2 separate regions of the Homo sapiens genome follow, and region 1 is linked to region 2. The links come from fine-mapping of genetic effects on gene expression. A gene starts in region 2. The other region holds a variant in brackets. All regions are shown on one strand. Distances are from middle to middle. Region 1 holds the start of KRTCAP3 (keratinocyte associated protein 3). Region 2 holds the start of GTF3C2 (general transcription factor IIIC subunit 2).

Region 1 (8,325 bases), 83 kb after region 2:
AGAAAGGAGACTTCAGGAGAGAATTTGGCTTTTGGGGCCTCTCTCTGGAGTGAGACTATTCTTCATTGATGATGGTCAGATTGTGGGTGTCTCCCCTACTCCCAGTGGCTCCTGACACTATCAACAATCATGTGAAGACTTGTCGAGAAGAGCAGAAGAATCTACACTTCTTTGCACCAGAGTATGGAGGTGAGCCTTCCTGCTTTCTCTGCCCTGTCCTCATCCCCCTGCTTTTGCACCTTATAACTTGAGGTACAGAGGCAATATAACTGAAACTTCTAGGCCTTCTCTACCAGCATACAAAATATTTTTCTTTTCTTTTTTTTTTTTCCTAAGGCATTCCTGCCAACCCTAGCCCCCAATCCTCTGATTAACCAAAGCCTTCTCTGTTTTCCCTAGAAGTCACTAATGTGACAACAGCAGTGGACATCTACTCCTTTGGCATGTGTGCACTGGAGGTGAGGGGACTGGAGGGGAGGGGGGAAAGGGGTCAGATGAGAAGATGGAATTGGGAATGGAGGGAAGACAAGTAAGGCGCTGGCTTGGAGGGAGTGATTGTGGGAGCACTGAAGTTCTTAGGTGTCTACTTTTTTTTTTATTCTTCCTCACTGAAGATGGCAGTGCTGGAGATTCAGGGCAATGGAGAGTCCTCATATGTGCCACAGGAAGCCATCAGCAGTGCCATCCAGCTTCTAGAAGACCCATTACAGAGGGTAAGGATCTTCAGGATCACTCCCTCCTCAACTGACCTTCAAATGTCTTCTGGTTTTTCTTCCTTTGTACCCACTGGGTATATGCTCCTAAGAGCTAGGGAACATAACAGAAAGGACACGAAAAATCTATAAACATTTTCTTAGGAGGTGCCTACCATGTTTTTGCATAGAAACACACAGGTAAGGGGGTTAAGATGGATGATGCTGGGGTTAAAAGTTGTGTGTTGGAAGCCGGGCATGGTGGCTCACGCCTGTAATCCCAGCACTTTGGGAGGCCGAGGCGGGCGGATCACGAGGTCAGGGGATCGAGACCATCCTGGCTAACATGGTGAAACCCTGTCTCTACTAAAAATACAAAAAAAATTAGCCAGGCTTGGTGGCGGGAGCCTGTAGTCCCAGCTACTCAGGAGGCTGAGGCAGGAGAATGGCATGAACCCGGGAGGCAAAGCTTGCAGTGAGCTGAGATCGCGCCACTGCACTCCAGCCTGGGCGACACAGGTAGACTCCGTCTCAGAAAAAAAGAAAAAAAAAAAAGTTGTGTGTTGGCTGGGTGCAGTGGCTCACACCTGTAATCCCAGCACTTTGAGAGGCTGAGGCGGGTGGATCACTTGAGGTCAGGAGTTTGAGACCAGCCTGGCCAACATGGTGAAACCCTGTCTCTACTAAAAATACAAAAATTAGCTGGGCATGGTGGTGTGTGCCTGTAGTCTCACCTACTCGGGAGGCTGAGGCAAGCTTGAACCCGGGAGGCGGAGATTGCAGTGAGCTGAGATTGGGCCACTGCACTCCAGCTGGGGCAAGAGAGCGAGACTGTCTCAAAAAAAAAAAAAAAGTATGTTAATTTGAATGTGTCTACATGGAGGTAAATTAATTTGATGGTTACTTCAGGCCATTGCTGTATACTCTCAGACAGCCATTTTTATATTTTTAAGCACATCAGTCAATTTAAATTAAACCAGTTGTTTGGGATTTTATATTTATACAGTTTTAGTTAGGGACGGTGGCCTGAAATAATGAGCTAAGATTTAAAAGACATAAGGTTATGAATCAGTTGATAGACTATAGTAAGCAGAGCCTGGGCAGGAAGGTCCAAACAAGAACAGTTTGTAACTCATTAGATAAGTATAGTAGGGAACAGGAGAGAAAAGAAGACTAGTGGGAAGTCAGGAGGATAGTGTGGAGTAAGTTTCTACTTCAACATTGAGGTGGAGTATTCAAGTGAAAGATTAGGTATGTGACCTTGTTAGCCTTCAAGGTTAAAAGCAGGAAAGCAGGTTAATTGTCATGGGACATGCAGGAGGTAGAAAAGGAGGCGGTGGTGGAACATGGTGGCTCATACTTTTAATCCCAGCACTTTTGGAGGCTGAGGTGGGAGGATCACTTGAGCTCAGGAGTTCGAGACTAGCCTGGGCAACGTGGTAAAACCCTATCTCTATGAAAAAATAAAAATTATCTGGGTATGGTGGCACATGCCTGTGGTCCCAGCTACTCTGGAAGCTGAAGTGGGAGGATTGCTTGAGCCCAGGAGGTTGAGGCAGCAGTGAGCTGTGATTGTGCCACTGTACTCCAGCCTGGTTGGCACAGCAAGACCCTGTCTCAGAAAAAAGAAAGAAAGAAAATAAGGCAGAATCGTTAGAGGAATCCTGGGAAATTCGGTGAATTCAGTGATTGTGGGCAAAGGAAATTGTGATACTAGGCTTGTGAAATAAAAAAATGGTGAATATTGATCACATTGGGTAAGTTTGGGAAGAGAGAAGCTAAATTTGGCAAGATTTAGAAAAGAAGATAGGCAGTGAGTTGACTAATAAAGCAGAGAGGTAGAAACTAAGGAAAAAGAAAGTGTGGGGCCGGGCGCGGTGTCTCATGCCTGTAATACCGGCACTTTGGGAGGCTGAGGCGGGTGGATCACGAGGTCAGGAGATTGAGACCATCCTGGCTAACATGGTGAAACCGTCTCTACTGAAAATACAAAAAATTAGCCGGGCATGGTGGTGGGCACCTGTAGTCCCAGCTACTCGGGAGGCTGAGGCAGGAGAATGGCGTGAACCCGGTAGGCAGAGGTTGCAGTGAGCTGAGATTGCGCCACTGCACTCCAGCCTGGGCGACAGAGCGAGACTCCGTCTCAAAAAAAAAAAAAAAAAAAATTGTGAACATTAAAAAAGAAAGCTTGTGGTTGGAGAGCAGAAAAATAATTAAAACCAGAAAGGCAGTGGATGGTATCTTTCATATAATATCTTACAGTTTTTGAAGCCCTTTCAGGTGCATTTTTCAATATATTGTTTTCTCAGCAAGTGCTGAGCACCTACTATGTACAAAGCCTTGTGCTAAGTAGAATGAGAGCTATAAAGATGAACACACTGGGGGCTTGCCAGATGCCTGCTCCAGTTCCTTGTTTCCTTTTCTAGGAGTTCATTCAAAAGTGCCTGCAGTCTGAGCCTGCTCGCAGACCAACAGCCAGAGAACTTCTGTTCCACCCAGCATTGTTTGAAGTGCCCTCGCTCAAACTCCTTGCGGCCCACTGCATTGTGGGACACCAACGTGAGTCGTCTTGGCCCTATGGGGAATAGTCTTCCAATCTGGAGCCCTGTAACTATCACTGGCATGCTTGTTTTCCTCTTTATTTCCAAAGGGATTCTTTTTTTTTTTTTTTTTTTTTTTTTTTTTTTTTTTTGAGACAGAGTCTCACTCTCTCTCAGGCTGGAGTGCAATGGCTTGATCTCAGCTCATTGCAACCTCCAGCTCCCAGGCTCAAGCGATTCTTGTGCCTTAGCCTCCCGAAGAGCTGGGATTACAGGCATGTGCCACCATGCCTGGGTAATTTTTGTACTTTTAGTAGAGATGGGGTTTCGCCATGTTGGCCAGGCTGGTCTTGAACTGGCGTCAAGTGATCTGTCCGCCTCGGCTTCCCAAAGTGCTGGGATTACAGGCATGAGCCACTGTGCCAGGCCTCCAAAGGGATTCTTTACCCCTTTGCCTGCATGCCTTCTTTGACATTTAATCTGACTATCCCTTCATAATATCCCACTCCATCATGCCCTCCAGACATGATCCCAGAGAACGCTCTAGAGGAGATCACCAAAAACATGGATACTAGTGCC[G/A]TACTGGCTGAAATCCCTGCAGGACCAGGAAGAGAACCAGTTCAGACTTTGTGAGTAACTGAGAGGGTCTGAAAGGGGCAGATTGGTCACGACCACTCTTGAGGCTCTGTAAACTGTCCATTCTCTGGGAATGCTTGAATTTGCTATTTTGCTTGTTTCTTTCCTTCCATCTCCTTTCTCTTTTCTCGTCCAGGTACTCTCAGTCACCAGCTCTGGAATTAGATAAATTCCTTGAAGATGTCAGGTGAGAGCAGAGTGAGAAGCAGGCTTTCTTGAGGAAGCAGGCGGGGTTGGGTATCCTAAGGCGTTCACAGAGCCCATGTGACCTGTCTTCATCTCCCTCCAGGAATGGGATCTATCCTCTGACAGCCTTTGGGCTGCCTCGGCCCCAGCAGCCACAGCAGGAGGAGGTGACATCACCTGTCGTGCCCCCCTCTGTCAAGACTCCGACACCTGAACCAGCTGAGGTGGAGACTCGCAAGGTGGGGGCTGTGTGGGTGTGGATTGTCTCCATGGTTGTGGTGGAAGGGAGAGAGGACATCTCAAATAAGGCTCTATCCTTTAGAGAAAATGCTCCCTAGCAGCCATGCCCTATGGGCTCGAAAGACGTCTAGGTATTGGGTTTTTTATGGACAGGTCTCTAGAGTGACCCTCTCTTCCCTCCCTAGGTGGTGCTGATGCAGTGCAACATTGAGTCGGTGGAGGAGGGAGTCAAACACCACGTAAGGCTCAGGGCTAGGGTTGCGCAGGGCTAGTAGCCAGAGGGTAGGGAAGAAAAGTCTCATTTTCTGACTGTCCTATTCTCCAGCTGACACTTCTGCTGAAGTTGGAGGACAAACTGAACCGGCACCTGAGCTGTGACCTGATGCCAAGTGAGTCTCTCCTTTCCCTCAGAGGATGGAGAGTCTATGAGCCTTATCTTTTAGGGACATATTCAGGGGTGGGGGAGGTGACAAGGCAGTAACACATTGACTCACATAGAATGACTATCTTAGACCCTAAAGCAGTGGGTGGATCTGACTGACAGTTTAGCCCTAGTGGGGCTGTCTGAAGGGCCCCAGGTCCCTCAGTCCCGTACTGTACTCACCCCCTCCTGTTTCTTTGTCAGATGAGAATATCCCCGAGTTGGCGGCTGAGCTGGTGCAGCTGGGCTTCATTAGTGAGGTGAGGTTTCTGCCTTCATCTGCCCTGGCTGCCCCCATGCCTTCTCTTCTCTCAGCCCCCATCTTACTGAGCTCTTCTCCCCCAGGCTGACCAGAGCCGGTTGACTTCTCTGCTAGAAGAGACCTTGAACAAGTTCAATTTTGCCAGGAACAGTACCCTCAACTCAGCCGCTGTCACCGTCTCCTCTTAGAGCTCACTCGGGCCAGGCCCTGATCTGCGCTGTGGCTGTCCCTGGACGTGCTGCAGCCCTCCTGTCCCTTCCCCCCAGTCAGTATTACCCTGTGAAGCCCCTTCCCTCCTTTATTATTCAGGAGGGCTGGGGGGGCTCCCTGGTTCTGAGCATCATCCTTTCCCCTCCCCTCTCTTCCTCCCCTCTGCACTTTGTTTACTTGTTTTGCACAGACGTGGGCCTGGGCCTTCTCAGCAGCCGCCTTCTAGTTGGGGGCTAGTCGCTGATCTGCCGGCTCCCGCCCAGCCTGTGTGGAAAGGAGGCCCACGGGCACTAGGGGAGCCGAATTCTACAATCCCGCTGGGGCGGCCGGGGCGGGAGAGAAAGGTGGTGCTGCAGTGGTGGCCCTGGGGGGCCATTCGATTCGCCTCAGTTGCTGCTGTAATAAAAGTCTACTTTTTGCTAAAAGCGTCGTGTGTTCGCGCCTTTCCCGCCAGGGGGAGCGGGCCCGGGGCGGAGGCGGGGCCCAGGTGGGAGGGGGACCCGGGACGGAGGCGGGGCCCAGGTTGGGGCGGGGCCGGGCCCAGGTACAGCGGCCCTGCGGCTGGCGCGGCGGACGGGATGAGGCGCTGCAGTCTCTGCGCTTTCGGTAACTTCCGGGCCCTGGCGTCTCGTCTCCTTACCCTGGGGCTACCCTTGCCCCGTCCTACTGCCCGCGGTTAACCCGCCGCGAGCCGCCTCTCCCCTCCCCGCCCGACTCAACCCTGCCCTCCCCCGTGCTTTGCAGACGCCGCCCGGGGGCCCAGGCGGCTGATGCGTGTGGGCCTCGCGCTGATCTTGGTGGGCCACGTGAACCTGCTGCTGGGGGCCGTGCTGCATGGCACCGTCCTGCGGCACGTGGCCAATCCCCGCGGCGCTGTCACGCCGGAGTACACCGTAGCCAATGTCATCTCTGTCGGCTCGGGGCTGCTGGTGAGCGCGGCAGGCGACCCGGGCGGGGGCCGGGCTCCCGGAGAGCCCAGCAGGCCAAAGGCTTTGTGTCTTCCACAGAGCGTTTCCGTGGGACTTGTGGCCCTCCTGGCGTCCAGGAACCTTCTTCGCCCTCCACTGGTGAGAGGGACTTCCCTGGAGCTTTTAACGAGTAGGCTTGAGTCAGGGAAATGGGGGCTGACTGAGCTTGGTCTTTCAATAGATTGGAGGAGCCTCAGAGAAACTGGGTGTCTAGTCACTGGGAGAGTTAGCCAGGCCCAGGCTGCTCACCCTGATCTCCTGTCCCTGCCAGCACTGGGTCCTGCTGGCACTAGCTCTGGTGAACCTGCTCTTGTCCGTTGCCTGCTCCCTGGGCCTCCTTCTTGCTGTGTCACTCACTGTGGCCAACGGTGGCCGCCGCCTTATTGCTGACTGCCACCCAGGACTGCTGGATCCTCTGGTACCACTGGATGAGGGGCCGGGACATACTGACTGCCCCTTTGACCCCACAAGAATCTATGTGAGCACATTCTCTTCCTTCTTGTGGTCTACAAAGCCTTGGTCCTGCCCTTTTAATTTCCCCTATTTGCTGCACTTGCCCTACTCCCTCCTACTCCCCATCCTTCTTGCTTTTCAGGATACAGCCTTGGCTCTCTGGATCCCTTCTTTGCTCATGTCTGCAGGGGAGGCTGCTCTATCTGGTTACTGCTGTGTGGCTGCACTCACTCTACGTGGAGTTGGGCCCTGCAGGAAGGACGGACTTCAGGGGCAGGTAAGGAAGGCAAACAGGAAGGGTTCATTCCACAGAGACTGGCTGTGTTGAAAAGATGCTGACCGGCCGGGTGCGGAGGCTCACACCTGTAATCCCAGCACTTTGGGAGGCTGAGGCAGGCGGATCACTTGAGGTCAGGAGTTTGAGACCAGCTTGGACAACATGGTGAAACCTCGTCTCTACTAAAAATACAAAAAATTAGGTGGGGTGGTGGGCGCCTGTAATCCCAGCTACTTGGAAGGCTGAGGCAGGAGAATCGCTTGAACCCGGAAGGCGGAGGTTGCAGTGAACCGAGATCACGCCACTGCACTCCAGCCTGGGCAACAGAGTGAGGCTCCGTCACAAAAAACAAAACAAAAAAAAGATGCTGACCTATCATTCAGGGCGAGGGTGTCTAACTCTATCTTCTTCTGCAGCTAGAGGAAATGACAGAGCTTGAATCTCCTAAATGTAAAAGGCAGGAAAATGAGCAGCTACTGGATCAAAATCAAGAAATCCGGGCATCACAGAGAAGTTGGGTTTAGGACAGGTAATGGGCCTTGAAGGTGGTGGCCCGGGTAAGAGCGGGGACAAGGAAGTGCTCTTAGAACTGGGTCTAGGTCTTGCCATGCTGCTTTCCCCTCTGACCTGGGTTGGTTCTCCCCTCTGTCCAGCAGGTGCTGTTCCGAGACTCAGTCCTAAAGGGTTTTTTTTCCCACTAAGCAAGGGGCCCTGACCTCGGGATGAGATAACAAATTGTAATAAAGTAACTTCTCTTTTCTTCTACTTGATTATGATTCCTTTTGGGGAAAAGGCACTGTGTGGTGTTGGGAATGACTTTGATCAAAGAATACAGTGGTCTCAATTATTTATAAAACTTTAATGAGGGAGAGGCCCTAACTCTTCCTCAGCTCTACCAACTACTGAAAGGAAAAGCTGGTGCTGGGGAGCCCTCCACACCACTGACTGATGAATTTCAGCACGTCCTGGCACACTGGGCTGTGGGAGGTCTGTGAGCAAATGGAAGAACATGAGAGGAACTTGTTAATGCTGGAAATACAAAATCAGCTCCATCGCAGGCTTCAGGGTCTGCATCTGCCTTCCTGTAATCCCACCCATCTTTCTAGTGTGTATGTGGGTTTTTTGTTTGTTTTGAGACAAAGTCTTGCTTTGTCGCCCAGGCTGGAGTGCAGTGGCACAATCTCAGCTCACTGCAACCTCTGCCTCTCGGGTTTAAGCGATTCTCCTGCCTCAGCCTCCTGAGTAGCTGGGATTACAGGTGCACGCCACCAGACCCGGCTAACTTTTGTATTTTTAGTAGAGACGAGGTTTTAACCATGTTGGCCAGGCTGGTCTCAAACTCCTGACCTCAGGTGATCCGCCCACCTTGGCCTCCCAAAGTGCTGGGATTAAAGGTATGAGCCACTGCACCCAGACTTGTTTTTTTTTCTTTTTTTAGTG
Region 2 (8,271 bases):
CTGGCCAACATGGTGAAACCTCGTTTCTACTAAAAATACAAAAATTAGCTGGGTGTGGCGGCACACCCCTGTAATCCCAGCTACTCAGGAGGCTGAGGCAGGAGAATTGCTTGCAGGAGGTTGCAGTGAGCCAAGATTGCACCACTGCACTCCAGCCTGGCGACAGAGCTAGACTCCGTCTCAAAAAAAAAAAAAAAAGGAGCAAACAACCATCTATGGTTCAACTTAGTTTTTTAGTTTTTTGTTTTTGTTTTTTTGAGACAGAGTCACGCTCTGTCTCCCAGGCTGGAGCGCAGGGGCATGCTCTCTGCTCACCGCTGCCTCCGCCTCTGGGGTTCAAGTGATTCTTCTGCCTCAGCCTCCTGAGTAGCTGGGATTACAGGCATGTGCCACCATGCCCAGCTAAGTTTTGTACTTTTAGTAGAGATGGGATTTCACCATGTTGGCCAGGCTGGTCTCAAACTCCCAACCTCAGGTGATCCACCCACCTCGGCCTCCCAATCAACTTAGTTTTAATAGAAACAATAACTCTTTCATATTAAAATTTATTTCCCCTGTCACCCAGGCTGGAATGCAGTAGTGCGATGATCATGGCTCACTGCACCTTGACCTCCTGGGCCCAAGTGCTCCTCCCCATCTCAGCCTCTCAGGTCACTGGGACCACATGCACACACCAGCAGGCCTAGCTAATTTTTATTTTTTTTGTAGAGACAGGGTCTCAACTATCTTACTCAGACTGGTCTCAAATTCCTGGGCTCAAGTGATCCTCTAGCTTCAACTTCCAAAGTGCTAGGATTACAGGTTTGAGTCACCACACCCAGCCTATAACGTATGTATAAAGACAAAGCAAAACATTAAAAAAAAAAAAAAAAAGGGTGGGAGCCTGGACAACATAACAAAATCCTGTCTCAACAACAACAACAAAAATGTTTAATTAGCTGGGTGTGGTGGCAAATACCTGTAGCTCTAGCTATTCGAGAGGCTGAGGCAGGAGGATCGCCTGAGCCCAGGAGTTCAAGGTTACAGTGAGCTGTGATCATGCCACTCGACTCCAGCCTGGGTGACAGAGCAAGATCTTGTCTCAAAAAAAGTGGGAACCAATACAATGACTCTTGGCAAGCATTCAACTCAACTAGTGGAAGCAGACTGACCACGTCTACAGGAGAAAAACCTTCAAGCTTCAAGCATTTAGAGAGGAAATAAGAGTATGTCAGTTAACATAAGGAGCTAAATGGAAATCAGTTAAGAGAGCTTCTATACAAGTCTTAAGGATTTTCTAGGCCAAGTGCTGTGACTCACGCCTGTAATCCCAGCACTTTGGGAGGCCAAGGCAGATGGATCACTTGAGGTCAGGAGACTAGCCTGGCCAACATGGTGAAACCCCATCTCTACTAAAAATATAAAAATTAGCCCGGCGTGGTGGCAGGCGCCTGTAATCCCATCTACTCGGGAGGCTGAGACAGGAGAATCACTTGAACCCAAGAGGCAGAGGGAGAGGTTGCAGTGAGCCGATATCACGCCACTGCACTCCAGCCTGAGTGACAGAGGAAGATTCCGGTTTTTTTTAAAGGATTTTCTACATCAGTATACATATATTTATCTCATTCTTCCTAATTGCTGCATGGCATTCCATAGAATTAGTTATTTAGACAATCTTCATTTAATGAACAAATGAGTTAAAATACTATTTCAAAAAATACTGCAATAAATATTCTAGTACAAATCTCTTCATTAATTCATCAATAAATTATTTTTCTCGAATAATCATCTGAACATGGAATTACTGTACTACACTGAAGAACATGCACATTTCAAAATTTGATACTACCAAACGGCTCACCAAAATTAAAACTATTTATGTATATTAGTACCCATTTTATCATACCGTTACTGATCTTTTTAATTTTCGCCAATCTGATAGGTGAAAGAATTCTTCCCCACTCTATTTATTTGCACTGATAATAATTGGTGTCAGCAACTTCTTTCTATATATTGGACATCCATATGACTTTTATGAATTGCCTGTACATATAATTTGCCTGGCCGGGCACGGTGGCTCACGCCTGTAATCCCAGCACTTTAGGAGGCCGAGGTGGGCGGATAACGAGGTCACAAGTTCGAGACCAGCCTGACCAACATGGTAAAACCCCGTCTCTACTAAAAATACAAAAGTAGCCGGGCATGGTGGCACGCGCCTGTAATTCCAGCTACTCAGGAGGCTGAGGCAGGAGAATCGCTTGAACCCGGGAGGCGGAGGTTGCAGTGAGCCGAGATCACGCCACTGCACTCCAGCCTGGGCAACAAGAACAAAACTCCGTATCAAAAAAAAAAAAAATACACTTCTCATGGAAGGCAGCAGCAGGATGTAATGGTACAAATTCTGGATACACAGTAAAGGAATAGATGATCAGTAAATTCGTACTGAGTTTCTAAAACCTTCCATTGCACCCCAATCTGTCTGGTTCCCATGCTGCTCCAGGATGCCAGCTTGACCTCCCCAGCCAAGAAAAAATAATGACACAACACTGCACCTTAAGTATGAAATTACTTTGAATACACTGCTTAGCTTAATATATTGTTTCCTAAAGTGTTCCTAGGGTACAACTGGCGGTATGCAAGATGATTTTAATGGTACGAAAACGAACATTTTAATGACTAGTGCTTTTATTTCAACTTACATAAACAATTATAAGTAGCCCATGAAACCCACGGTTTCATTTATATTGCTTAGGTCGAGACTAATGCATTTAAACTTTTTAAGTAAGTCAATTTAAAGAGAACTATTCAGAAAACAATAGTACAATTGATAAGAGATTGCAAAAATAGTGATGGCACGGGATTGACTTAAAATTGTATATGCCTCTGGAACAAAGAGGTTTGTCCATACCCTATACATCCCTCCAACAAAGTGAGTTGCCTCCGACGGAGTTGAAGTCGCCACCTCTGACTTCCCCAACAGGCAGCCAACTTGCCACGGGACAAAAGGACTAGACAGGGAAACACAACTGGCCCTTGGTTACGCCAATGGCGTTGCAGCGCGCGGGGCACAACCCTCGGGGTTAAAGAGCCTCCTCGAGGAAGAGGCTGGGACACAGCTGAAAGAGATTGACCCACAACCACTCTAGGGGCCATCACCTGCCCTTCTTCAGTCCTGGGCGTGAAGGTAGATTTCTCCCCTAGCCTGTGCGGGAGAGGAGCCCTGGTTTTTCTAACAAGGACTACTGTAGGTTCGCCGAGTTCGAGGGACGCTACGTATGCAGCGCCTACGCCCGGACACAGGCTTCCGCGTTACCGACACCGCGTGGGGGAGGAGGGCAAGACCCGAGGCTTGCAGAGATGGGGGGTGCACGGTGGCCACAGTAGGGAAGGTGCGGAGCATGATGGTGCTCTGTAGGAGCGCAGACGCTGAAAGGCGCGCTGCTGTGGCTGGGAGAAGAGCGGAGCCAGGAGTTTGTTCCCAATATCTTAGTGCTATGGCAAAAGAAGGGGGAGGAGTAATTGTGGGGCCCCCCACACACCCGCTGCGGCGATACACTCACCCTCGCCAAAGTCCTTCCGGAAGTCTAAGTTCGAAGATGGCGCCGCCTGTCTGGTCGCGGTCTTATGACGAAATCTTGTTAGCTGCTCTTCACTGACGCCCCCACCCCAGTGCACAAGGTAAACACGTGTGCTTGGTCCGGAGTCGGTGCCGGGCTAGTTTTCTCTTAGACTCTGTATTCCATAATGCAGCGCGGCCAGAGTCACCGAGCCCTCCGAAGCCAGCCGAGTTCCAGGGCGTCTTCAGCGGCGCCAGGGACGCTGCAGGGCCTCATGGGAGTTGCAGTGTCAAAAAGGGGAGATCGACGCCTGCGCGGCCAACGGGATCCCACGCGGCCTCGACGGGAGCCGGGAGTAGGCGGACTCCCAGGCCGGGCTCGCGCTCTGGATCCCTGAATCCGGCCTTTCCGGCCGGACTGCCGCGCCTGTGGCCGGAAGAGCCAGCTAGACCAGAGAGTCTGTACCTGCAACCCTGGCGGCGTCCGAGCCCAAGGCGGAGTCTGGGAGACAAAGAAGTCCTCGCCGCCGGCCGCTGGAGGATTCTGCCAGTAGTGAAGTCAGGGATGGGCCCGAGAGAGCTTGGAAAGAGGACAAGGAAGGGAAGGAGTAGGAGTAGAAAAGCATGACTTTGGCTGGGTATGGTAGCTCCTGTCTGTAATCCCAGCACTTTGGGAGGCCAAGGCGGGGGAGGATCACTTGAGCCCAGGAATTCGATACCAGCCTGGGCAACATAGTGAGACCCCGTTTTTATTTTTATTTTTATTTTTTCCTGAGATGGAGTCTTGCTCTGTCCCCAGGCTGGAGTGCAGTGGCGCGATCTCGGCTCACTGCAAACTCCGCCTCCCGGGTTCAAGCAATTGTCCTGCCTCAGCCTCCCGAGTAGCTGAGATTACAGGCGCCCGCCACCAAGCCCGGATAATTTTTGTCTTTTTAGTAGAGAAGGGGTTTCACTATGTTGGCCAGGCTGGTCTCGAACTCCTGACCTTGTGATACGCCTGCCTCAGCCTCCCAAAGTGCTGGGATTACAGGCATGAGCCACCGCGCCCGGCCTAATTTTTTAATTTTTTCTAGAGATGGGGTCTCGTTATGTTGACCAGGCTGGTCTTGAACACCTGACCTGAAGTGATCCTCTTGCCTCAGCCTCCCATAGTGCTGCGATCACAGGTGTAAGTCACTGAGTTTGGCCATTATTCCATTTCTGTACACAAAAACCTTTCTCATTCTGTGCTATAACTAGTTAGCATTTAATTGGGTGGATGTGGTATAACTAGTGCCTTGTTGATATTGATGCATATTTACATGGTTTTGCTGTTATAAACAATGGTCCCTTGCTATTATAAATCACACTGCTATAAGTAACCTTGCATCTAAATTACTTCAAATGTGTAACTATATGGGTAGGATAATTTCTAGAAGTGGAATTGTGAACCAAAGTTTTAGGTGCATTTGTAATTTTGATTTATAACCAATCTTTTCACTGATCTACTTCTCTGCCTCTAATTTCTACTAGGTGTTTGTTTGTTTGTTTGTTTGTTTTGAGACAGGGTCTTGCTCTGTCACCCAGGCTGGAGGACAGTGGTGCAATCACGGCTCACTGCAGCCTCAACCTGCCACCTCAGCCTCCTGAATAGTTGGGGTGTGTGGCAGGTGTATACCACCACTTCCAGGTTTTTTTGTTGTTGTTGTTTAATAGAGATGAGGTCTTGCTATATTGCCCAGGCAGGTCTCACACTACTGAGCGCAAGCGATCCTCCTGCCTATGCCTCCCAAAGTGCTGGGATTACAGGTGTGAGTTGCCATGCCTGGCCCGGTTATCTTTCTAAAGCATAAAGCAACCCTGTTGATCCTCTGCTTAATTTTGATGATTAAGTAGTATGTTCAAAATATAGAAATCCATGTATTGATAATGATCTTTTAAAAAAAGTAAAAGCCAAAATATCAGCTACTCATCCTACACCATTGAAAGTAGTGACCATTAAACTGCTCTACCTCTACCTCCACCTCTCTACCTCTCTACCTCTCTACCTCTACCTCTACCCACGGTCTCCCTCTCTTTCCATGGTCTCCCTCTCATGTGGAGCCGAAGCTGGACTGTACTGCTGCCATCTCGGCTCACTGCAACCTCCCTGCCTGATTCTCCTGCCTCAGCCTGCCGAGTGCCTGCGATTGCAGGCACGCGCTGCCACGCCTGACTGGTTTTGGTGGAGACGGGGTTTCGCTGTGTTGGCCGGGCCGGTCTCCAGCCCCTAACCGCGAGTGATCCGCCAGCCTCGGCCTCCCGAGGTGCCGGGATTGCAGACGGAGTCTCGTTCACTCAGTGCTCAATGGTGCCCAGGCTGGAGTGCAGTGGCGTGATCTCGGCTCGCTACAACCTACACCTCCCAGCCGCCTGCCTTGGCCTCCCAAAGTGCCGAGATTGCAGCCTCTGCCCAGCCGCCACCCCGTCTGGGAAGTGAGGAGTGTCTCTGCCTGGCCGCCCATCGTCTGGGATGTGAGGAGCCCCTCTGCCTGGCTGCCCAGTCTGGAAAGTGAGGAGCGTCTCCGCCCGGCCGCCATCCCATCTAGGAAGTGAGGAGTGCCTCTTCCCAGCCGCCATCACATCTAGGAAGTGAGGAGCGTCTCTGCCCGGCCGCCCATCGTCTGAGATGTGGGGAGCGCCTCTGCCCCGCCGCCCCATCTGGGATGTGAGGAGCGCCTCTGCCCGGCCGCGACCCCGTCTGGGAGGTGAGGAGCGTCTCTGCCCGGCCGCCCCGTCTGAGAAGTGAGGAGCCACCCCATCTGGGAAGTGAGGAGCATCTCCGCCCGGCAGCCACCCCGTCCGGGAGGGAGGTGGGGGGTCAGCCCCCCGCCCGGCCAGCCGCCCCGTCCGGGAGGGAGGTGGGGGGGTCAGCCCCCTGCCCGGCCAGCCGCCCCGTCCGGGAGGTGAGGGGCGCCTCTGCCCGGCCGCCCCTACTGGGAAGTGAGGAGCCCCTCTGCCCGGCCACCACCCCGTCTGGGAGGTGTGCCCAACAGCTCATTGAGAACGGGCCAGGATGACAATGGCGGCTTTGTGGAATAGAAAGGCGGGAAAGGTGGGGAAAAGATTGAGAAATCGGATGGTTGCCGTGTCTCTGTAGAAAGAAGTAGACATGGGAGACTTTTCATTTTGTTCTGCACTAAGAAAAATTCTTCTGCCTTGGGATCCTGTTGATCTGTGACCTTACCCCCAACCCTGTGCTCTCTGAAACATGTGCTGTGTCCACTCAGGGTTAAATGGATTAAGGGCGGTGCAAGATGTGCTTTGTTAAACAGATGCTTGAAGGCAGCATGCTCGTTAAGAGTCATCACCAATCCCTAATCTCAAGTAATCAGGGACACAAACACTGCGGAAGGCCGCAGGGTCCTCTGCCTAGGAAAACCAGAGACCTTTGTTCACTTGTTTATCTGCTGACCTTCCCTCCACTGTTGTCCCATGACCCTGCCAAATCCCCCTCTGTGAGAAACACCCAAGAATTAGCAATAAAAAAATAAATTAAAAAATAAAAAAATAAAAAAATAAAAAAAACTCATTAAGCTCTAAAAAAAAAAAAAAAAAAGAAAGAAAAAAAGAAAGTAGTGACCAATTCCTGAAAATTGGCAAAAAAAAAAAAAAGGCAAGAGTAAGGCATTTATCTTGTCTTTCCAGTATGAACTCTAGTTCAAAATAACTGATGAGAGGAAGGTTTTGTTTGTTTTTTGAGACTGAGTCTCACTCTGTCGCCCAGGCTGGAGTGCAGTGGCGCGATCTCGGCTCACTGCAACCTCTGCCTCCCAGGTTCAAGCAATTCTTGTGCCTCAGCCTCCTGAGTAGCTGGGATTACAGGCGCCCGCCACCACTCCCGGCTAATTTTTGTATTTTTTTAGTAGAGACGGGGTTTCACCATGTTGGCGAGGCTGGTCTTGAACTCCTGACCTCAGGTGATCCGCACACCTAAGCCTCCCAACGTGCTGGGATTACGGGTGTGAGCCATTGCCCAGCCCGGGATTTTTTTTTTTTTTTATAGATTAACAGCTAGTAATTGTGCAAAGAATGATAGAAAAAAATCACTATTTTGCATGTCCCAGTGAAATAATTCAGGCAACAATCACCAGTGGATGAAATCCCTAAAGAGCTTTTAGGAAGCTTTAAAATGCCTGGACCCACTCATCACTGAACATGAAACCACCAGTCATTGTTTGCCTCCTGATGTGAGGCAATATAAAGCACACAGAACCACTTATTAAACATTCTTGCCCAAAAAATTGAATAGGAATACAGGACTTAGGGGCCAGGCGTGGTGGCTCACACCTGTAATCCCAGCACTTTGGGAGGCCAAGGAGGGCGGATAATCTGAGGTCAGGAGTTCAAGACCAGCCTGGCCAATGTGGTGAAACCCTGTCTCTACTAAAAATACAAAAGAAAATTAGCTGGATGTGGTGACGCACACCTGTAGTCCCAGCTACTCGGGAGGCTAAGGCAGGAGAATCACTTGAACCTGGGAGGCAGAGGTTGCAGTGAGCTGAAATCGTGCCATTGCACTCCAGCCTGGGCAACAGAGCAAGACTCCATCTCAAATAAAAAAAAAAGAAATACAGGACATAGGGAATGAGTGAAATGACAACATAAGAAAGCAAACAGTCAAATCTAGAATGCAGAACATTTCATATGACAATCAACATGGCTTCTGTAAGCCAATGTCAATGTAAAAAGGGGATAGGAGACTGCTCTTTTTTTTT

Evidence for each region. PIP is the estimated chance that this variant, and not a neighbour inherited with it, causes the effect.
Region 1: its variant is fine-mapped to the expression of GTF3C2 in whole blood (TOPMed, PIP above 0.99).

Annotation. Positions count from the first base shown.
Region 1 is chr2:27,436,648-27,444,972 of GRCh38, forward strand. NRBP1 (nuclear receptor binding protein 1) reads left to right here. Exons shown (of 18, transcript NM_013392.4): 8 at 106-189; 9 at 400-458; 10 at 615-713; 11 at 3,119-3,251; 12 at 3,756-3,861; 13 at 4,005-4,055; 14 at 4,158-4,293; 15 at 4,480-4,533; 16 at 4,620-4,683; 17 at 4,920-4,975; 18 at 5,061-5,612. The coding sequence ends at 5,165. KRTCAP3 (keratinocyte associated protein 3) reads left to right here and starts at 5,734. Exons shown (of 7, transcript NM_173853.4): 1 at 5,734-5,793; 2 at 5,932-6,116; 3 at 6,195-6,254; 4 at 6,427-6,633; 5 at 6,751-6,885; 6 at 7,302-7,414; 7 at 7,539-7,650. The coding sequence starts at 5,766. The coding sequence ends at 7,409. IFT172 (intraflagellar transport 172) reads right to left here. Exons shown (of 48, transcript NM_015662.3): 48 at 7,730-7,874. The coding sequence ends at 7,785. RefSeq lists an enhancer at 5,869-6,411. The variant G/A (reference allele first, on the strand shown) is at 3,812.
Region 2 is chr2:27,353,200-27,361,470 of GRCh38, forward strand. GTF3C2 (general transcription factor IIIC subunit 2) reads right to left here and starts at 3,565. Exons shown (of 19, transcript NM_001035521.3): 1 at 3,540-3,565. GTF3C2-AS2 (GTF3C2 antisense RNA 2) reads left to right here and starts at 3,566. Exons shown (of 4, transcript NR_183827.1): 1 at 3,566-3,657; 2 at 4,609-4,703; 3 at 5,686-6,261. RefSeq lists enhancers at 2,959-3,572, 3,086-3,365, 3,416-3,755, 3,573-4,186, 3,766-3,895 and 1 more.